Regions from separate parts of the Homo sapiens genome. Here region 2 is linked to region 1. Evidence: fine-mapped expression QTL. A gene starts in region 1. The other region holds a variant in brackets. All regions are shown on one strand. Distances are from middle to middle.

The links. PIP is the estimated chance that this variant, and not a neighbour inherited with it, causes the effect.
Region 2: its variant is the best candidate, but not a certain one, in a credible set for the expression of PRKAR2B in pancreatic islets (PISA, PIP 0.89).

The regions. Positions count from the first base shown.
Region 1 is chr7:107,038,011-107,049,671 of GRCh38, forward strand. It overlaps PRKAR2B (protein kinase cAMP-dependent type II regulatory subunit beta), which reads left to right and starts at 6,695. Exons shown (of 11, transcript NM_002736.3): 1 at 6,695-7,204. The coding sequence starts at 6,898. RefSeq lists silencers at 2,748-2,959, 6,448-7,007, 6,794-7,088.
Region 2 is chr7:106,978,241-106,989,901 of GRCh38, forward strand. No RefSeq gene overlaps it. Among named protein-coding and RNA genes, the nearest start is that of PRKAR2B, 61 kb to the right of the region's middle. RefSeq lists cis regulatory regions at 74-745, 917-1,230, 1,442-1,841. The variant G/A (reference allele first, on the strand shown) is at 4,429.

The DNA of each region.
Region 1 (11,661 bases):
GTGTTATCAGCTCTTTCTACAGCCATTTAACCAATCCTCACCCCTTACCAGCCCTCCAGAGACACCTGGTGTCTTCAGACTCTGTGCTCTGTAATACAGATGTGATCTTGCTTCTTGTTGGCTTGCTCTCACTGACCCTTCACCCAGGCTTAGGTTCCAGCATTCTTCAGTTTGCTGTTAGTTCCAAAATTCTAGTAGACAACTCTCATCTGTTCTTGTCTCTTTTCCTATTCTTTTTTTTAATTAAAGAATTAATTTTTTTAAAATTTGTGATAAAGTACACATAACATGAAGTTTACTATCTTTATCGTTTTAAGTGTACAGTTTAGCGGTGTTATATATATTCACACTGTTGTGCAACCAGTTCCAGAACTTTTTCATCTTGCAAAACCAAAGCTCTTTACCCATTAAACAGCTTCCCATTCTCCCCTCCCCAGTCAGCCACTGGCAACCACCATTCTACTTTCTCTTTCTATAAATTTTGACTTTTCTAGATACTTCATATAAGTGGAATCATGCAGTGTTTGTCTTTTTGTGACTGACATTTCACTTAGCATAATGTCTTCTAGCATGTGTCAGAAATTCCTTCCTTTTAAGGCTGAATAATCAAAAAAAATTAAAATTATTTTAAATTTGTATTGTGGTTCTCCTGTTCTTTTTGTTGTTTGAGTTTTCCTGTGTTCCTTTAGCCATTATTTTAGTGGAGTAGAGATAAACTTCTGTGTCCAACGTGGTCCTTAATAGAAAACCCATATTCTGTTTATGAAATATGTTTAAGGACATATTCTTTGTTGCTTTTTAAGAATCTCTTTAACTTTGCAAGATTCCTTAAAGGAGAATAATGAGTATACATTTCGTCCTGATTTAGCCAAAGAAAAACTTATGCGTTGATATTAAGCAAAAAAAGTTGCTTCAAGCAGCTTCCTATTCAGCATGAACATAAGCTCTTCCTTAGTGAATCTAGCATAGTGGATCTCAAAGTGTGGTCCCGAGACCTACAGCCTAAGTATCACCTGAGTATTTGATAGACGTGCAAATTCTCGGGCCCCACCTCAGACTTACTGAATCTGAAACTCTGGGGGTGGGGCCCAGCAACTGTGTTTTAAGTAGCCCTCCAGGTGATTCAGATGCTTGGTAAAATTTGAGAATCACTAGTTTTCTAGCGGCAACCCTTTTGCGAAGTTGCACATAGAGATTAAACATTTTACTTACTTTTAGTCCAAATGTCTGTAAGATTTTCAGGCTATGAGGTGACCATCTTTTAGCAGGCATGTTGTGAAGTATCTGTACCACCTCTATAACATTGGGACTGTTCCCAATATTCGGGACTTTCCTCTGCTGAAGAGGCAGGCCTTATCATGTATTTATACTACCTGACCACTTCCTTATCTGGCACCCTACTGGCCACACTTACTAGACCAGTCAAGGCCAGGCAATCTACTAGATGGTCAAGACCAACTAACCTGATTCTCTCTTGAGAATATGAATCAGAGACACCAAAACTGTAGTCAGTGTTGAAATGCTAAAGGTACGTAAAACTGAGGCTGATGATCACAGTCAGCCTTGGGCAAGAACAGGCCCTGTATCCTCTCAATTGCCTCCTTTTTTTTCCTTGAGTGGGTATATATTTCTTGCACTCCAGAGACTTGATCAGGAAACACCTTAACTATTGACAGGAAATGCTGCATGATTGATTGGTCATAGTTATTATTCTGTACTGCTTGCCCAAGCCATTGACTTTGTTTTTTTGGCAGTTACATATAAGCAAGTTGATGGGTCTGTTTAATTTCCTGGTGTGAAAACAAATTTGATAGCACTCTTTTCATTTCAATGCTGAGCTCTCAGAGTTCATTTGCCATTGCTTCCAGTCTGATTCTCTGAGAAACTGGTGCAAATTGCTTTGCAAATCCACAACCAAAGAATCAGTATCAGTGATGCTCTTTTAAGGAATATGAGATACATAGTTCCCATAAGCCACTGTTCAAAAGGCTCAAAATGAAATATTCTGAAAATGAAAGCAAAAGAAATCATAAAATATTACCAAAAAGGTTATGTGGTAGTGAATAAAAGCCAGAATATGATTTGAGAAGTGAACATTTGTTCTGAGAACAATGCTAATGTAATGGGAATATCAGGACCAAGCTTTACTTTTTCAGGTCATGGTTATTGATTTAAGAACTGATGCAAATGAAAATTACCAAAGAGCTGTTTGCAAAGATGTTTCAAGTCCAATAAGTCTTGTTTTAGTATTATACTATTGTAAATCTCTCAGGATGAAAAAGACTATATAGGTCATCTAATCCAATTACGCATTTCATGCTTGAAATCATTGCTATATTCTTAAAGAAATGAGAACCACACAACCTTGGCATTGTGGTTGATGACAGAGAGCTATCTACCATGCTTCATATAATAAATCTACAAGAAGAAATAAATGAATTTGGAAACACAAAATGGCATTAACAAGATATGGCTCTTAATAATGTTTGGAAAAGTAGTGCTTTTTTTAATTTTGTCATTCCTAGGGAAAAGGTATTAGACATTGTGGCAGAGATTGATAATTATCTCCAGACTTTTTTTTTTTTTTTTTTTTTTTGAGACAAGGTCTTACTCTATCACCCAGGCCGGAGTACAGTGGCACAACCACAGCTCACTGCAGCCTTGACCTCCCTGGGCTCAGGCGCTTATCCCACCTCAGCCTCCCGAACAGTTACGACCACATGTATACCACCAAGCCTGGCCAATTTTTGTATTTTTTTATAGAGATGGAGTCTCCCTATGTTGCCCAGGCTGGTCTCGAACCCCTGGGCTCAAGCGATCCACCCTCTTTGGCCCTCCAAAGTGTTGGGATTACAGGAGTGAGCCACTGTGCCCGTCCAGACTTGGTTCTTTTTAATTCCCAAATGTTTACTTGGCACGTGACTGCTCAAAATAAATATTACATTTCCAAACTTTCCTAATAGCCATTGGTTTCAGTTGCTATTGCTGTGTAACAGATTATCTCAAAACCTAGAGGCCTACAACAACCTTTTTATTATGCTCACAGATTCTGTGGAACAAGGCTTCAGCCAGGGCATCCAGTACAGGGCTGGCTTCTTCTATCATGCTGACTTGACTTTTACAATGTTCTATTGGTCAAAGAAATCACAAGCACATTCAGATTCAAGGGGAGGGGAAATAAGACTTCAATTCATTAGTGAGTAGTGGCCACGCCACACTGTAGGAGATATTGTTGTAGCCGTCTTTGGAAAATGCAATTTGCCACACCAAAGGTGTGGCCATGTTGACTAAGTTCTAGCCAAGAGGATAGAAGAGGAATTGTGTTTAACTTCCTAGAAGGAAGGGAGGGGAGGGGAGCTTCCCTTCTCTTTTTCACTTTCCTCTTAGCTAAAATATGACTGGCCCTGGAGCAGCCATTTTGGACCACAGACAGGATCATAGAGCAATGAGCTGGAGGGAGCCTGGGTCCCTGATGATCATGGAGTACCACACTGTGTCCGGAATTGGTGGGTTCTTGGTCTCACTGACTTCAAGAATGAAGCCGCAGACCCTCGCGGTGAGTGTTACGGTTCTTAAAAGTGGCGTGTCCAGAGTTTGTTCCTTCTGATGTTCGGATGTGTTCGGAGTTTCTTCCTTCTGGTGGGTTCGTGGTCTCACTGGCTCAGGAGTGAAGCTGCGGACCTTCGCGGTGAGTGTTACAGCTCTTAAGGCGGCGCATCTGGAGTTCCTCCCGGTGGGCTCGTGGTCTCGCTGGCTTCAGGAGTGAAGCTGCAGACCTTCATGGTGAGTGTTACAGCTCATAAAGGCAGTGTGGACGCAAAGAGTGAGCAGTAGCAAGATTTATTGCAAAGAGCAAAAGAACAAAGCTTCCACACTGTGGAAGGGGACCCGAGCTGGTTGCCACCACTGGCTCAGGCAGCCTCCTTTTATTCTCTTATCTGGCCCCACACACATCCTGCTGATTGGTAGAGCCCAGTGGTCTGTTTTGACAGGGCACTGATTGGTGTGTTTACAATCCCTGAGCTAGACACAAAGGTTCTCCATGTCCCACCAGATTAGCTAGATACAGAGGGTCCACACAAAGGATCTCCACGTCCCCACCAGAATAGCTAGATACAGAGTGGCGATTAGTGCATTCACAAACCCTGAGCTAGACACAGGGTGCTGATTGGTGTGTTTACAAACCTTGAGCTAGATACATAGTGCCGATTGGTGTATTTACAATCCCTTAGCTAGACACAAAGGTTCTCCACGTCCCCACCAGACTCAGGAGCCCAGCTGGCTTCACCCAGTGGATCCCGCACTGGGGCTGCAGGTGGAGCTGCCTGCCAGTCCCGCGCTGTGCGCCTGCGCTCCTCAGCCCTTGGGTGGTCGATGGGACTGGGCGCCGTGAAGCAGGGGGCGGCGGTCGTCGGGGAGGCTCGGGCCGCACAGGAGCCCACGGAGTGGGGGGGAGGCTCAGGCATGGCGGGCTGCAGGTCCCGAGCCCTGCCCCGCGGGAAGGCAGCTAAGGCCTGCGAGAAATTGAGCACAGCAGCTGCTAGCCCAGGTGCTAAGCCCCTGACTGCCCGGGGCCGGTGGGTCCGGCCGGCCGCTCCGAGTGCGGGGTCTGCCGAGCCCACGCCCACCCGGAACTCGCGCTGGCCCACAAGCACCACGCGCAGCCCCAGTTCCCGTCCGCGCCTCTCCCTCCACACCTCCCCGCAAGCTGAGGGAGCTGGCTCAGGCCTTGGCCAGCCCAGAAAGGGGCTCCCACAGTGCAGCGGCAGGCTGAAGGGCTCCTCAAGCGCTGCCAAAGTGGGAGCCCAGGTAGAGGAGGCGCCAAGAGCGAGTGCGGGCTGTGAGGACTGCCAGCACGCTATCACCTCTCAATACCAACTCTGAACTGCCCACATTTAGATTCCAGAGAAATAAATCTTAAGCTATTGTATTTCGCATTTTCTGCCACATGTGAGCAGTGTTTATCATAATTAATACAAATATTATCACAAATTTAGACAGGTGATACACATGCATCTTAGATTACCAGATCCGTAAAAATAATAATGCTTACACGGTAGAGAGTAGTACTAACATTGTGCTCCAACCGGTGACATGTGAGGCTCACCATATTTTATAAAAGTTTAATTCTTTTTTTTTTTTTTTGAGACGAAGTCTCACTCTTGTCCCCCAGCCTGGAGTGCAACGGCACTGCACGATCTCGGTTGACTGCAACCTCCGCCTCCTGGATTCAAGCGATTCTTCTGCCTAAGCCTCCTGAGTAGCTGGGATTACAGGTGCCTGCCACCATGCCCGCTAATTTTTGTATTTTTAGTAGAGATGGGGTTTCACCATGTTGGCCAGGCTGGTCTTGAACTCCTGACCTCAGGTGATCCGCCCACCTCGGCCTCTCAAAGTGTTGGGATTACAGGCATGAGTGAGCCACTGCGCCCGGCCAAAAGTTTAATTCTTAAAATGCTCGACACAATTAGAAGCACTTAACTACTGTATATTTAAAGCAACGTAACATTATTACTATAAAGTTGTTAAGAAATGAAAATAGAGAAATACATTGGCTCATGGAGTCAATACAGGATGCATCATTAACAAAGGGTTAACATCAAGATCCATTTTTACAAGAGGGACTAGTTCGTTACATCTCTGATTTCTAGACTTGGAGTTTCCCCAGTCATGTGTTTACTCTTCCGTGGGTGGGAAGATAAATCAGAATAACCAAGTGAGCTTGCTCTTGAAATATTTTATTTACAATGATATGATAATTGTAGAAAATGAAGTATGCGTACTTAAATAGAATTTAATTGACAAAAGACAATTTTCTCTACTTCAAAATTGTAAACATTTGCAAAGTAAGCCTCATTTCAAAGTCAAAGCCTTCTACTTTAAAAGCACACATTAGTAATTCTATTTTTCTTTATACTGAAGTATTTCAATTTTTGGACATACAAGTCAAAAATCATTCAAAGCATAAAGGAAAGTTTCAAAATAATAAGCGCCTCATCCTGCACTATCCTATTTAAAAGAGATCAACTAACTTTGATAGGTGCCTCTCAATAAATGGTGCCTTTGTCTCAATAAATAGTAAATGCGTGGAGTGCACAACGGAATAGCATCAGTAAGACGAAACATAATAAACAGGATGGATCGGGAAAGGCTGGATAAAATGTGGGGAAGAAAAAGAAAGACGTCACAAAGATGGGGTAGCATTTCTTTGTCCAAAAGAGAACCAGTACCACCATAAGACTTTAAACAAAGGACATTAGCAACACTTATCATGCAACTAGATTCTAGAAGGAAAATAAAATGCCACTACTAAGGTGGAGGCTGAAGTTTCAAGACAAATCTCCTGGCACCACCTCTGCGGGGGTTCACCATGGCGAATGACGCCTGGGAAGCGGGGCGAGTGGCCAGCCCGCTCCTGGACGCGCGGACAGGTGGACACGAAGGCGGCCTCGCTGGGCCTCCCTCCGCCTCTCCCGGCCCGGGCGCGCAGCCCTGCGGTGGTCTGACAGGCGGGTGCGCGGCGCCAGCCAGCGGAGGTTGCCATGGTTTCCGGGGGTCACGTGGGCGCGCTCTCCTGCGCCCCCTCCCGCGCACCGCGGCGGGGCGGGGGCGGGGCGCCCGGGCGGGGGAGAGGCGCGGCCGCGGCTGGAGCGGGAGGAGCAGGAGATGCTGCCAGCCCTCCCGGGGCCGCGCTCGCTCAGCCGCCGCCACCACACGGAGCAGACGCGCGCCGGGAGCCGCGGGCCGGGCCAGCCGGGCCGCCGGGGCCCAGTGCGCCGCGCTCGCAGCCGGTAGCGCGCCAGCGCCGTAGGCGCTCGCTCGGCAGCCGCGGGGCCCTAGGCCGTGCCGGGGAGGGGGCGAGGGCGGCGCCCAGGCGCCTGCCGCCCCGGAGGCAGGATGAGCATCGAGATCCCGGCGGGACTGACGGAGCTGCTGCAGGGCTTCACGGTGGAGGTGCTGAGGCACCAGCCCGCGGACCTGCTGGAGTTCGCGCTGCAGCACTTCACCCGCCTGCAGCAGGAGAACGAGCGCAAAGGCACCGCGCGCTTCGGCCATGAGGGCAGGACCTGGGGGGACCTGGGCGCCGCTGCCGGGGGCGGCACCCCCAGCAAGGGGGTCAACTTCGCCGAGGAGCCCATGCAGTCCGACTCCGAGGACGGGGAGGAGGAGGAGGCGGCGCCCGCGGACGCAGGGGCGTTCAATGGTGAGGACCAGACCCCCCACTTCGCGCCCCCGGATCCCCTCGCTGCCCCCCACCGCTCCCCGCTGTGCTCTCGGATCTTGCCGCTTTGCGCACCCACCTCTCCCCGCATTCTCCACCTTTCCCTACCTTCCCATCTCGCCCACCCCCTCAGCATCCATTTCTGTCTCTCCCACTCGCCCACCTTCCTACTCCGCTCTCTGTCATACCCTCTTCCCTTCCTCTAGAGGTGGGAGAGCTGGGATGTTACGCTTCCCTCTTACCCTTTGCCCCCTCTGCCTGGGCCGGTTGGGGTGGGCATCTGCTAGAAAGACAACTTTCGCTGTGGTTGGAGGTATTTCGCTTAGAGGATACCATTGTGCATAAAGAAACTGGCCCGCTTGGCGTCTTCTTTCAGCCCTTGTATTTATTAATGGAATGTCGAAAGAGAAAAGGAGAACCGTGTTTAATATGATTGGCTTTACTGTTGTTAGGACGGTAGATTCGCTAAAAGAAGCATGAAATTGGACTCACTGGGGCAGAACAAAATTTATGGCCAGTAGCTCTGACATTCTTGGAAATAAGAGTTATCTATTATTTTCCAATTTACCAATACCGTGTTGTGTTATTTTTGGACACGTAACAAAGGATTCTATTTAGTCTGAAACCCACGGGGGTCTTTGGAACGAGGAAATGGGTTAATGGTTTGCTTTTTATATAAAAGACATATTGAATGATTTGGTGCTTTATTTTTTTAAAAGTGTATGAGAAAAACACTGTAGGAAGTTCTGAAAGCTTGTTGGTTGTCTTTAGAATGAAAAGCCAGTGAGTAATTGTAAGGATTGTGCCAGACAGTAGAGCTAGAAAGAATGAATGGGAAAGAAAAAGGAATTTTCTCAAATAGCTGCTCCTGGCAAGTCCCACCCCTTCTGCTTACAACCCTCTTTCCCTAACACACCCAGACACACACCCTCATTTACAGCCCCTTGTATTACACAACATGCCCAAATCTCATTTTTATGGCAACCCAAGCTAAAATACCATGGAGTGCAGTGTGCAAGTGTTTTCTCTTTGTGGTGTAAGGCAAACATGCATGCAGCATTGCACCAGCTTTTATTTATTTACACTGCTTGTGGTTTGTGTGTCCGCAGTGTATTTCATAAAATGAAAACATTTAAAAGTGTCATTTCATTTCCTTGTGTATGCTCCTAGGAAGATGTTTCTTTTCTTTGCAGGATTACATGTTGAAATGGATTATAAAATTAGTGTATTTTTAGTTTCTCCAAAAGAATCCCAGAAACCCTGGAAATTAGTGCGCTGTGAAGATAAAAGTGAAGCTTGTTACTTACAATTTTAATTTTGGACTTCTAAATGTTTCCCCAAGAGGATAAACATAGTCTTAATAATTCTTTTTGCACAAGAATCGAATCAAAAGCTTTTCCTACCAGAAACGAGAAAGAGAAAAGAATGCATGTTTTAAATAGGTAAGAAGCAGCAGCCAGTAACGGATGACAGAAAGGGCAGAGATATCTAATACTTCTTTTATGCTCCTGACATGTTCGTGCACACACACAAAGGGGAAAAAAAGGACTCTTTTCCCAGGTTGGAGAAAACTAGGAACTAAGGGGCTTGGTAAAGACCATATATATATATATATTCTGTATGATATGTTGTTAATATAATCAAAATATTTTGTTTGTATAATGCATTTGTTGAAGTACTTTGCATTGATGATTGCATTTTCTCCTTATAACAATATATTGCGCACAGAAAAGATTCCATTTTCATTTTGTAGTGAAGAAATAAGCCGTTAACTTCTGAACAGCAGGGGTCATTTTATATGGCTTTATATTCTCCAAGGCACCTTTGCTGTAAAAATTGCTCAGTGTGACTTAAACAAGTTAAACTTGTTAAACAATTGCACTATTTACTCCCTAGCCTCACCCCCAAGGACTTTAAAACTTTTTGACTGCAACCAAATACAATTTGATCATTATCCAGGAGGCACATACATCTGTATAACAGAAACTTTGGCAATAGTACAGGTACTTCCTTCTGTCAGATGCAGTGCTTTTTGATATTTCCTATTTGAATCAGTTATTTCTCCCTATTTTAAATTGTATTGAGACCTCCAGTTGAAAAACATTTAATTATAGGCTACAAAGTGATTGGCAAGGTTTCTTGTAAAGGGCCGGTTAGTAAGTGTTTTAGACTTAGGGCAACATGTGGTCTTGATCACTTCTTCTTCAGTTTTTTTTTTTAAACACATACACCTTCTGAGGGTTGCGGTTGTACAAAATTAGCTGCAGATCAAGGCCATAGCTTGCCGACCCCTGGTTAGAAGAAAAAAAAAAAAGTCAAAATAGTACCATTGGGGGAAAAAACAGGAGTGATCCTAAAAAGTATGAGCCTATCAGTTTGACATCTATGTCCAGAAATGTGTCTCATTAGAAAAGAACCCCAGATACTGGGCAATTCTGGCATAGTAAAGAATAAGGATTGGAAAACAAGTCTTAATTTACTATGACACAGCACAAGACCTGCTGGGTCAGTAATTCTGAAATTTTCATAGATATCTCAAGGAAGTTTGATTCAGAAATGACCATTACCCTGTACCATTTTTGGAGAGCTTTTTTAAATAGGTTGAGATGGGACATGATATCCTTTTCTTCCCCCTCAGTAGACATCCCACCCAGGTCATTCTGATATCAATAGTTCCATGACTGTACTTTGGAAAACATTAACAGATAGTGATAATACTATATTCTTCTTAACATTTAAAACATAATTGCCGTTAGTTGACAATTGCTGTGTGCTGTCTAAATGCTTTAATTTTTTTGTCTCAGCTTTATGAGAACGATAAGGCCATCACTTGCCCAGTGTTTCACGTGAGCTGCAAAATCAAGATTGGGATACAGGTGGACCTGGCTTCATCCCTGTGCTCTTGACTGCCCGATTCTATCTCCAGATGGGGCTGGGGCTAGCATAACCTGAGTATCCCTTATATGTCAAGCTCTATTTGGGACCCTTAATGTGTTTTATTGTTAAAGCTCTGAAAAATTAACTTGTCCAAGGTCACACATAAAACGAGTAAGTAGGGAAGCCTGATTTCTTACTCTTATGTATCTAACCTTGAAGCCCAGGATGATCAGGGAGTTCTTAAATGGAATTTGTTCTGTGGGCTGACTCACAAGTCAGGTTTTCCTGTTTTTTTTTCTTTTAGTAATGCTGATGGATTTGCATTGTTGGTTCATATCCTCTCTTGTGAATGTCTTTAACGTAAGTGATGGTATTTATGAGAGGTTGGAGTTAAAAGGCAAGTTTTTGACCATGCAACTTGTGCCCATTGACAAACGTAGGACAAACGTAGGGATCAAGCATGTGACCTTGACCTTATAATGTGGTGGTTTAATCAAATAAGCCAGGCACCTGCAGTTAGCTGGAAAAAATGTTGTCTGGCCAGGGGTCGGTGATTTTTGAGGGTCAGGTGGTGTGGCTGTAGGTGGCGCTAGAGCAAACAGTCAGATGGGTGAAGGTCATCTTCTTTCCTACCTTTCCAAAGGATCCCTTCCTCTTCTAATAGCTTTCTTTTCCCTCTCCTATTCTCTTCCAGTCTTATAAATTCTAATTGTTACTTTCCATTTGCTATCAATTCTGGTCGAAAGAGCAAGCTTTAGATGTTAGAATGATAGTGGCTTATGGTGACCCTTTCTAGGGAAACTCTCAAAGGCCAGAAAGAAGCCATAATGGAAACCTCTTGGCATCTACTCTGTCTCCCTCTTCCCCGTCCTAGAGAAAGCAAATACAGTTTGACATGTCATGTCTGAAAGGGTAGCATCCCTAGGCCTTGAATTTCTTAGAAGGTTTACGGTAGGCTATAGCATTGCATCAGTACTAGTTTGGAGTAAAATCTGTGGTAATTCATGATTTTATATAGGCATCATCAAGAGATCTTGTGTTGCCCCATAATTTCTTCAGTGGAATTGCTGAAACAAAAAATGAAGTAAATACCATTCAGATTACTCTGATAAATGGACAAGTGGTCAGAAACAAAATTAACTACACATGGGCACATGCAGAGCAGTCAACCTGGGAGAAAAAATAACTACCGTGATAGAAAATAAAGAGCTGATTTTCTGAGTTATAGAAGAAAAAGATCTAGAGTTCAAAGTAGATACACATACCAAAAATATAGACTCATACCCCATAAGACAAGCATATCAAAAGTAATAAATAGAAATTTACCATGTAATAACTGTGGCTTAATCCTCTTAACTCTGTCCCATGTCCAGTCTTGTTGGAATCTTACCTACCTTTTGGTTTTTACAGTTCAAAGGGAATTTGGAGAATTTACAAAACATCCTTAAGGTCAAGCAAAATATTGTAAAGTTTATATCATTGATATAAAATCTTACAGAGTTATATACTTTTTTTTTTGCAGAATAGCAATTTCATTGTGTTTTATGGAAATGAATCCAGTA
Region 2 (11,661 bases), 60 kb before region 1:
TTCTAAGGCATTGGTTCTCAAATCCACCACTCCAGGAGACATTTTTGGTTGTCACAAGTGGGAGGAGGATTAAAATGTTAGTGGCATCTCGTGGGGAGAGGCTACGGGTGCTGTTAAACATCCTGCAATGCAGACAACAGCCCTCACAACAAATATCATCCAACCATAATGGCAATAGTGCTGAGGTTGAGAAACTCTGCCCTAAGGTAATGATTTGTCTTCAGAATGCAGTCCTCAGGCCACAGATTAATGCAGATCCTTGATACCCAACCCAGCCTGCTGAATCATATACTCTGTAGGTAACACTAGATGTGTGCATTTTAGAACTCTTCCCAGGTGATGTAAATGCATGCTGAAATTTGAGAGCCATTGAACTGAAACATCAGAATTGAAGGAACTCATTTATATCTACAGAACATCCATTGTGTGTTTAGCAAGGATGCATGTTCAATGATAACAGAGAGAACTTTTACTTTTAAGCTGCAAAATACCGCACAGCCAAAGCAATGGTATCAGAATAGTCCGCCCACAGTCACAGCCTGTTCCAAAAAGATAGGGGGAGTTAGAAAGCAGAAAAACTGTCACCACGTCTTTAGCCTCCGAGTACAGAAAGTCATGTCTTAGACTGCTGATGGCATTTTTAAAAGTTTATCAACATGAAAACCAAAACAGCTACGAAAAATCACAATTTTAAAGGCAACCTATATTCCTCAATGTTGGAAATCCAGGCATTTGTAATTAACATACATAAAATTAAAGAGAATACATTATAGATATCCTTACTACGACCTTTAGTACACCTCATAGCAATTGGAAATTAGTTTAAGCTATATAAAGTCACCTGTTGTGCCAGTTTATTTTGTTATTTTTCATTAGCACCAAAAATATATATTTTAAAGGGAACACGGCCTGGAGCCCTCCCTCCTTTGTGGAGTGTATTAGAAGCTTCTTTTCTCCAGAATTGCTGTTACTCTTGTCTTTCCCTTTGCTGTGTGAAGTCACCACCAGAATGGGCAGCCATTACTGACGGAAGTGTGTCTGACCCCTGGAAAGATCTGAATGCATAGTGGGCCATTGTCCCTAGTGGACGTGAATGGAAAACTCACCCCAGAAGCATCAGCTTAGATAAGTGAGATTTTTTTCCCAGAGCCGATGCAATAAGAATTTCCAGGCTGTAAACCCAGGCAGGTCTGAGAGATGTAGCTTTCTGGGTAGTAAAATCATAGCCTTGTATGCTAGTGTATGTTTTTTTCTGATTTGGAGCATAAAAGGCATCTTTGCAGGGCTAGCAAGGTCATGGAACTCCAGAAAGGCCTCCCTAAAATAAAAGGGAGGCAACGGGGAGCCTTGCCATGCTTCCGTGAACTTATCTTGTTTATATCCTTTTTACTGGTTTTTTTTTTTTTTCCACTGCTTTAGGAGAAAGCCAAAGTAAAACCAGTTACGTCTAGGACACATTGTCATGATTGCCTGTGGCCTGGCTCAGAGTGGGGAAAAGTTTGAGAAATATTGCTTAACCTGGCTGCCGGGGTCATAGGGACCTCTCAGAAGCAGCTTTATTCCCACATGTCCACAGGGGAGCTAAAGCAATCAAAGGCCCCAGGACAGAAGCGACAACCCTCAGGGCCTCTCCCTCCCCTCCCCTCCCAGCATCACCCTTACCGTGTCCTTGGTAATCACAAAGGGTCAGCCAGCCCTGTGTTAGTCCTTGGGACTAGCGTATCCCTCATATCTTCCAAGGCTCTCTACCTCCCTCCCTAAAGATAGAGATTTAGAGCTCGTTCTGCCCAGCTATTTCAAATAGAGGAGGCTGATGTGATAAAACTCACTAATGTGTAAAAAACGTAATGTGTTCCTTCCTTCCAGAAAGTATTTACATTTTAGAAGATGTTAAGAGAGGCAATACTCAATCCAAAGCAATTAATCTCTAAAGGTTAATAGGGATTTTTTTTCTTTCAAATGAAGCAGATCTTAAACCCCTCCAATCATCTTGTGTAGTCAGGCTGCAAACCATTGAGAGAGGGGAGGGGAGGCTTATCAGATCTTGTAAATGCAGGTCAGCTGCTGAGTGGCCAGTTCTTCATCTTTCAGATCCATCAAGAAATGGAGATGCCCTTGCCCTAATTTCTGTTAGAAAACAGAAAAGTTGGATAGCATTCTACCTGGATCCTGTGGCATAAATTCCATTATCTTCAAAAACAACAATGGCAAATTCCCAAAGAGGGTACACACTGAACTGAAAAAGCACTCCGTCATTTCCCATTGCCTTTGCAGGGAATGAGGGGAAGTAGGAGACATTGTATCTCACTCAGCCTCTAGCTGAATCAACTGGCTCTTCGGTAAAGCTGAACTGCTCCTACACAGATATCACAGATATCAGTGGTCTCATTAACTAATTGTACCTCTACTAATAATAACGATGGTTTTAAAGCAGGCTGTTACATAAGGAAAAGGTTTTTCGTTATAATAAATATCAAGTCACAGGTCTGAGAAATGTGGCAAAGTCTTTTCAAAATCACAAAGAAAAGGGACATCAGTGGGAAAAAGCTGATGTCCCTTCAGAGTGGAACCGTGGCTGAAATGGTTCAGCCATGGTTCAGCCTCTCCTGCTCCACCTGGCATTTCCTGCCCTTCAGTTTGCATAGTTCCAGCCAAGATAGGGAAAGGTAGGTTGAACATCCTTAACAGTTGTAGAGGCTCAACAGAGAAGAATCTGGGGTGGCTGGGAGTAGTGAATCAATGACAAATTTTAATCTGGAGCCCGATGACTCATAAGAAAATTTAGCCATTGTGATATTGTTTGGATCTGTGTCCCCATCCAAATCTCATGTTGAATTGTAATCCCCAATGTTGGAAGTAGGGCCTGGTGGGAGGTGATTGGATCATGGGGGCAGATTTCTCACGAATGGTTTAGCACTATCCCCCTTGGTACTGTCCTCTCTATAGTGAGTGAGTTCTCCTGAGATCTGGTCATTTAAAACTGGGTAGCACCTCCCCCCAGCACTCCCTCTTGCTCCTGCTTTTGCTGTGTGACACACCTGCTCCCCCTGCACCTTCTGCCATGATTGTAAGCTTCCTGAGGCCTCCCCAAAAGACAAGCAAAGGTTGGCGCCAGCTTCCTATAAAGCCTGCAGAACCATGAACCAATTAAACCTCTTGTCTTCCTCAATTACCCAGCCTCAGGTATTTCTTTTGTGGGTGTTGTTGTTGTTGTTGTTTGAGACAGAGTATCGCTCTGTCACCCAGGCTGGAGTGCAGTGGCGCAATCTTGGCCCACTGCAATCTCTGCCTCCCAGGTTCAAGCGATTCTCCTGCCTGAGCCTCCCGAGTAGCTGGAAATATAGGCGCATGCCACCATGTCCGGCTAATTTTTTGTATTTTTAGCAGAGATGGGGTTTCACCATGTTAGCCAGGATGGTCTCGATTTCCTGACCTCCTGATCTGCCCGCCTCGGCCTCCCAAAGTGAGGTTTTTTTTTTGTTTTTTTTTTTTTTTTTGAGACAGAGTCTTGCTCTGTTGCCCAGGCTCGAGTGCAGCTGCACGATCTGGGCTCACTGCAAGCTCTGCCTCCCGGGTTGATGCCATTCTCCTGCCTCACCCTCCTGAGTAGCAGGGACTGCAGGTGCCCACCACTATGTCCGGCTAATTTTTTTGTATTTTTAGTAGAGATGGGGTTTCACCGTGTTAGCCAGGATGGTCTCGATCTCCTGACCTCGTGATCCGCCCATCTCGGCCTTCCAAAGTGCTGGGATTACAGGCGTGAGCCACCGCGCCCAAAGTGAGGTATTTCTTTATGCAATGCAAGAACGGCCTAGTACACCATGAGATATAGAATGAGTGCCATGTCTGCCATTAGGGAAACAGGTATAGAGAAAGGACTATTTTAGAAATAAAGAGATGTAGAGTTGTGTCCCAGCTCTATCACTAATTTGCCACTGTCTGAAAGGTAAGCTGTATGTGAGCAGGAATTTTTTTTGTCTCTTTTATCACTGCTGTACACCCCGCACCGGAACAATGTGCGGCACATATTAGACACTCAATACATGTTTGCCAAATGAATACGTGAATGATTGTAGTCTTGGACAAGTCAAATGGCCCTTAGGGACTATTTGTTCATTGATTATTTTCCCACCTGCGTCACAGCATGGCTGCTGTCTTGGAAAGCGTAAACTGCTCATGAGTGGCAGGTGTGAAGAAGAGAGGCTGACGGAGTGAACGGTGGTGAGGCACAGGAGGAAAGTTGCAAGGTGTGAGGCGTGGACGGGGAAGTTGGGTAGCAGGTGGGCTGGGCAGAAGGTGAACGATGGTGGAAGCTAGCTATCAGCAGAGATATTCAGAAGCTGGAAGAAAAAAGGAGGGTTGTAAGCACAACAGCGGCAGCAGCTGGCCAGTGGGAGTTTGTTTAAACAGAGTAGAAAAATTATTTAA[G/A]CCTCATTATTTTCTTCTGACTTCGGCCAAGGGGGTAATGAGGGTTAGCTGTCAGCTGCAAATGAAACCACTGAAGGAGAGAGAGTGCAAAGGGAATTTGAAGAATTAAAGCAGACTGGTCAAAAAAAAAAGCAAGCTGATACTGGACTAGCCATTTTGCCTTCCATTTGAAAGAAGAAAAGAGGGACAGATAGCTCAAATAACAGAAGACAATCTTATCCCCAAATTAGACATCCTGGATTTTCCATGATTATCCTAATTTTGTGTGATTTTATTGTTTTCACTGAAGACATCTTAGCCTGGGTTCTCTCAGAAATAGAGCCTTTGGGCCAGGTGCGATGGTTCACACCTGTAATCCCAGCACTTTCCGAGGCTGAGGCAGGAGGATCACCTGAGGTCAGGAGTTCGAGACCAGCCTGGCCAACATGGTGACACCCCTATCTCTATTAAAAATACAAAACTTAGTTTGGTGGTGCATGCCTGTAATCCCAGCTACTCAGGAGGCTGAGGCAGGAGAATCGCTTGAACCCAGGAGGCAGAGGTTGCAGTGAGCTGAGATTGTGCCACTGCACTTCAGCCTGTGTGATAGAGTGAGACTCTGTCTCAAAAAAACAAAAACAAAACCAGGAGCCTTTGGAACTTGTGAGCAAGTCATTATTCAGAAATGTGATTCCAGGAGCAGTAGTACAGGATAGTGGGAGGAAAACAAAGGAGAGCAAAGCAACACAAGGATGTGTAACTGAGCTGGCCTTTGCCAAGGGCGTCTCATGCTCCATCCTGCCTGGACCTCTCAAAGAGTTGATGAAAAACATCTCTGAACTTTCTGTTTGTTTGTTTGTTTTGAGACAGTCTCGCTCTGTCGCCCATACTGTTTAACACCATACTGTTTAATGACTACATCTTTATAGTATATTTTGAAATCAGAAAGTGTGATGCCTCCAGCTTTGTTCTTGCTCAAGATTGCTTTAGCTATTCATGATCTTCTGTGGGTCCATACAAATTTTAGGGTTGTTTTTTCTATTTCTGTGAAAAATGATAAAGGAATTTCGAAACGGATATCATTGAATCTGTAGATTGCTTTGAGTAACAAATCACACACACACAAAAATACAAAAGTTGTTCAGGAATTCTTACTTGTTCACAAGAAAAACATTGGTTATTGACTGGTTACATTGTTGACCTATCAGGTAAGAGTTCTATTTGGGACTCTATTTGAGTAGTGTGGACATTTTAACGATATTGATTTTTTTAATCCATGATCACATGATATATTTTCATTTATTTGTGTCTTCTATAATTTTATAAATCAACGTTTCATAGTTGTCTGTGTATGATCTTACCCTCTTTGGTTAAATTTATGCATAAGTATGTATGTAAGCATATGTATATACCCAGGCTGGGGTGCGATAGCACGATCTTGGCTGACTGCAACCTCTGCCTCCTGGGTACAAGTGATTCTCATGCCTCAGCCTCCTGAGTAGCTAGAGCATGAAGCACCATTCAGACCTGGCTCCTGTCTGATCTGCCATGTCTTCCCTCTAGGAAATCCAATCTATCACAGAGTTCCCTCAAGGCAATGACTAGTTGCAATCTTTGCAAGGATTTAGTACAAAAGAGTAGTGGGACAAGCCAAAGCTAGTGTCTAGATTGTTGTTGATATGTAATACTTCCTCCCTTTGCACATTAAAACCACCCATGCAGCTTTTAAAAATCCTGATGCCAGCCGGGTGCGGTGGCTCACGCCTCTAATCCCAGCACTTTGGGAGGCGGAGGCAGGCGGATCACGAGATCAAGAGATAGAGACCATCCTGGCCAACATGGTGAAACCCCGTCTCTACTAAAACTACAAAAATTAGCCGGGCGTGGTGGCAGGCACCTGTAATCCCAGCTACTCGGGAGGCTGAGGCAGGAGAATCACTTGAACCCGGGAGGCAGAGGTTGCAGTGAGCCGAGATTGCACCGCTGCACTCCAGCCTGGTGACAGAGCGAGACTCCCTCGCCCGCAAAAAAAAAATCCTGGTGCCTAGGCTATTAACTCAGACAATAAATCAGGGCAGTGATCTAAATTAGAAAATTAACTTTGATAGAATAATACTACCTAATTTACAGGCCTTACTCAAATTTCATCACTTGTCCTCTGTCCCTTTCCTGTCTGGGATCCCATCCTGGGTTATGTGTATTTAGTTGTCCTGTCTCCCTCGTCTCCTTCAGTCTGTAATTGTTGCTCAGTCTTTCTTCATCTTTCATGACCCTGACATTTCTGAAGAGTACTGGTCAGTTATTTTGCAGACTGTTCCTCAATTTGGGTTTATCTGATGATTTCTCATGACTAGATTGAGGTTGTACATTTTTTGTCAAGAACATCACAGAAGGGATGTTGTTCACTTCTCAGTGCATCACAGCATGGTTATGTGATACTGATGGGTCTTCATGGTGATGTTGACCTTGATCACTTCTAGGATTCGCCAGTGTAGAGTTACAATTTTCCCTCTTCATAATGAATAAATATCTTGTGGGGAGATTCTTTGAAATTATGCAAATATCCTGTTTCTCACTGGACTTTGTCCACTAATTCTAGCATTCATTAGTGGTTCTTTCTTGCAACAGTTATTACTATGGTGTTTGCCTAATGTTGAATTTTTATATTATTTATTCCTTCTGCATTTATTAATTGGAAGAGTAATCTAAGGAAGAGCTGTGTGACTTGCCTTTAAACAACAGTGAAAATTTAACAGCCCTCCAAAAAGGGCCTGGTTTGAGGCTTGAACTGGAGAATAAGTGAGAAATAGAACTGTTGGCATGAAAATTAACAAAATTAAATAATTGCTGTGGTTTTCATTAGGGATTGATAATTTTACTTGAGATAGGGAGCAGCTGGAGATGAGGCACCTCTAAACCACCAGAGTGAAATGTGTAGTCAGGGCCGGGTGTGGTGGCTCATGCCTGTAATCCCAGCACTTTAGGAGGCTGAGGCGGGCGGATCACTTGTGGTCAGGAGTTCGAGACCAGCCTGGCCAACATGGAGAAACCCTGTCTCTACTAAAACTACAAAAATTAGCTGGGTGTGGTGGCAGGCACCTGTAATCCCAGCTACTCAGGAGGCTGAGACCAGAGAATCACTTGAGCCCAGGAGGCGGAGACTACAGTGAACTGAGATCACACCACTGTACTCCAGCCTGGGCGACAGAGCGAGACTCCATCTCAAAGAAAAAAAAGTGTAGTCAGGAAGTGTTTTGGATATGAAACATAGCAGAGAAGTGTCTTCTGTATTAAAAAAAAAAGTTGGCAGGATATAAGGGGGCTGGTATGTACCATTCCTGTCAAAAAGAAACACATTTATGCAAATGACTCAAGATTAAGATCTGAAGAAAATAAAGACATAAGGGAACCAGCTGCAGAACAAAGAGTAAAAACTGAGCTGGCTACATCTGCTCAAAGGAAAACATGGAAGTTGATTAAGGTGATTATAAGGGAGACAGACATTGGAGGGCTGTTGAGGAGAGACTTTGGAAGAAAAGAGGAAATAAAGATTGTGGGTCACAGTTGGTCAATACAACCAAGGAAACCAGGAATATTAGCTAGAGATGGAAAAATCCTGAACCAAGACAAGAAGAGAGACAGGTCCTGCAGAAGAGTCTGGCAGTCCCGATTCAGACCAAGGGCCTCGTCACACAGGGGCCTGGAAAGAAAGGAGTCCAAGGGCAGGAAGGAAAGGGAAAAGAACAAATTTAGTATATAGGGCATATTAGCCATGATTCTTTCAGTTACAATGACAGTAACTCAACTCAAACTACCTTAAGCACAAAAAGAGACATTTCCAACTTCCAAACTGGGAAGTTCTCTGTAAGAACTGGCTGAGGGTTGCCAGCCCCCAAAACTTAGAGTCATAAGGCCTCTGTCTCTCCCTCTCCTCCCCACCCTATCCCACAACCTCTCCATTCTTTCTTTTGTGTATTGGCCTTACTGCTTCCCATCTCAGATGGGCTTCCTCTTTGCAGGCAGGGAAGATGGCTGCCTCTATCACAAAACTTTCATTATCTCAGCTTAGCAGCCCTGGCAGAAAGATTGACTATTTTCAGCCACATCTGCCTGTCACTGCCAAAGAAGAATTCTGATTGGCCCTCCTTGGATTCCAGGCCCACACTTTGAAACAGTCACTGCTGCTAAAGGAATGAAGAACCACAGGATTGTCCCTGCTTGGGTCAAATGCCCATCTCTATGCCCTGGCAACTGAGTGGGACCAGGAATAATGAAACCATGTAGAATGGTAGTTCCCCAGAGTAAGGAAATGTGTTGTTACCAGAATAAGGGAGGGAAGGCATGCTATGCACACCAACAGATGCTCACTATTGAAGACTCCTATGAATAATTTCTGGAAATAATAATAGTCCATTTTTCTTTCTTTCTTTCTTTCTTTTTGAGATGGAGTCTCACTCTGTCACCCAGGCTGGAGTGCAGTGGCACGATCTCGGCTCACTGCAAGTTCTACCTCCTGGGTTCAGTGGTCCAGAATAGGGAAGAGTGTACAAGATGTTATTGCACTAGAAATAAGAATAGATAGACCTTCAGCCATGTTTTTCCTTGGATTTACCTCACCTCAAATTAATTGCAATAGTCCAAAAATGGAAGGAAACAAAAACACTAACACTAAACCAGAGCACCCTATGACACACGTAGGTGGCTTGGGTGACATGTGTATCTTTATAATCAACCTGAGAGCATGAGAAGAGGGAATATCTATCCAAAGCTTTTGCAGACATTTACAGTGGTGAAGACAGGCCAAGTATTACCACTCTTCTAGGAAATCAGCTGCTTGAAGACTGCTTCAGAAAGTGCAATTCAGGGCTGGGTGCAGTGGCTCATGCCTGTAATCCCAGCACTTTGGGAGGCCGAGGTAGGCAGATCACCTGAGGTCAGAAGTTCGAGACCAGCCTGGCCAACATGGTGAAACTTTGTCTCTACTAAAAATACAAAAAAATTAGCCAGGCGTGGTGGGGGGTGACTGTAGTCCCAGCTACTGGGGAGGCTGAGGCAGGAGAATTGCTTGAACCCAGGAGGCAGAGGTTGCAGTGAGCTGAGATTGCGCCACTGAACTCCGGCCTGGGTGACAGAGCGAGACTCCATTTCAAAAGAAAAAAAAAAGTACAATTCAGAAGAGTCAGCCCAGGAGCCTGTCAGCTGGGCAGCAGTGGCCCCAGGAGGTTCTTCCTCAGCTGTCATTCTCTGGAAACTGCCCTCTGCCTTTACCACCAGTGGCTTAGAACCCCATTACTCTTTGCCCCTAGTAGTATGTTGCAAGATAACTCAGATGTACACGTGCCCTCTATCTCTCCATGCTGTTTCCACAGTTTTGAACTTGCACCCAATTTGCCCTTGCGTTTGTCATCTGTAAATTTCCCTTGGTATTTTCTCTGTCTCCTCTAGCCCCAAGGCCTCTTTGACCTCCTTATGGGCCATTACATTTTCTACAAAGGCCCAGAGGAATGTTTGGGTAGTCACACTACATTCTGCCAAGCATACAACTCTTCACATTAGCAATTTGCTGTGAGAAAGACCTTTAAACTTTCATTCGGTCCAGTCTTTTACCCTTTTCTTTTCTGAATATAGACATTAGGGCTGAGACTGAGCATAACCTGTGTCTTTTCTCAACCTATTTCATTATAAATGAAGAATGTCCCATTTAATGACATCTAGAGGCATTTCTCACATTCAGCTATGTTCAGCAACCCTCAGAGAAAATTCCATTATATTCTGTTCTAATTCCATATGTTAAAGTGTGTCTGCTATTTATTGAATCAGAGATTTCTGGCAGCATTCCAATATCTTTTCTCCCCTTTTTATAATGATAGAACCTTTTTTTGGTAGACATTTGCATGGAGGTTGGGTATAAAGACTGCATTGTTAGCCAGGTGCAGTGGTGTACACTTGTAGTCCCAGCTACTCAGGAGGCTGAGAAGGGAGGATTGCTTAAGCCCAGGAGTTCAAGCCCAGCCTGAGTAACATAGCAAGATCCCATGTCGAAAAAAATAATAATAAAGATTGCATTGTTCAGCCTCCCTTACAGTTAAGTGTGGCCACGTCACTAAGAGCTGGTCAATTGCATGTGATGGGAAGTAAAATGTTTAACTTTTGGGATGTGTCATAATGAAAGGGGCATTCCCATCATGCCTCCATTTTCTTTTTTCCTTTTTTTTTCTTTTCTTTTTTTTTTTTTTGAGACAGAGTCTCACTCTGTCACCAGGCTGGAGTGCAGTGGCATGATCTCGGCTCACTACAACCTCCACCTCCTGGACTCAAGTGATTCTCCTGCCTCAGCCTCCTGAATAGCTGGGATTACAGGCATGTGCCACCATGCCTGACTAATTTTTGTATTTTTAGTAGATATGGGGTTTCACTATGTTGGTCAGGCCGTTCTCAAACTCCTGACCTCATGATCTGCCCACCTTGGCCTCCCAAAGTGCTGGGATTACAGGCATGAGCCACCGTGCCCGGCCCCATGCCTCCATTTTCTATCCTGCTGCTTGGAACATGGAGATGGATATGATGGTGCACCATACTGGACCATGGAGGTAAGGGCAATATGCTAAGTATTATAGAATAATAAGAAGACACTTGGATTCCTGAGTGATCTCATGAAATAAAACCTCCACACCATCTCTCTTACCATCTACTTCTTACTGTAACATAAGAAAGAATTAAATTTTCATCTTATTTAAAACAGTTATTTGGAGTATCTATTACATGTAGCAGAACCTATATAATAATATATACATTTTTATTTCTGCACCTGAGTTTTATATTTTTTATTAATTATATTATTATTATCTTTGAGACAGAGTCTTACTCTGTTGCCTAAGCTGAAGTGCAGTGGCGATGCTGCGGGATAATGAAGGAATCAGAGAGACCGAGGGGTTGAGGAGCAATTATTTAATTATTTAGGTGCACCGACCCAGTTGGATTAACATCCAAAGGACTGAGCTCTGAACAAAGAGTCAAGCTACCTTTTAAGCATTTCGTGGGGCGGGGGGAGATCTGTGCAGGGGGAAGCATATTACAGAAGCGAGAAACAAAGACAGTTATTCAATTGAGACATGCATTATATTATTTCTTACTTTTTAAGGCACAACATGTTTTACGACTTCAGATTATCTGTCTAGTGACCTTGCAGCTGCACAGCTAGAGAAACAGTCTTCACAATGCCTGGGAAAGGGAGAGATAAGTCTCATTAGCCAC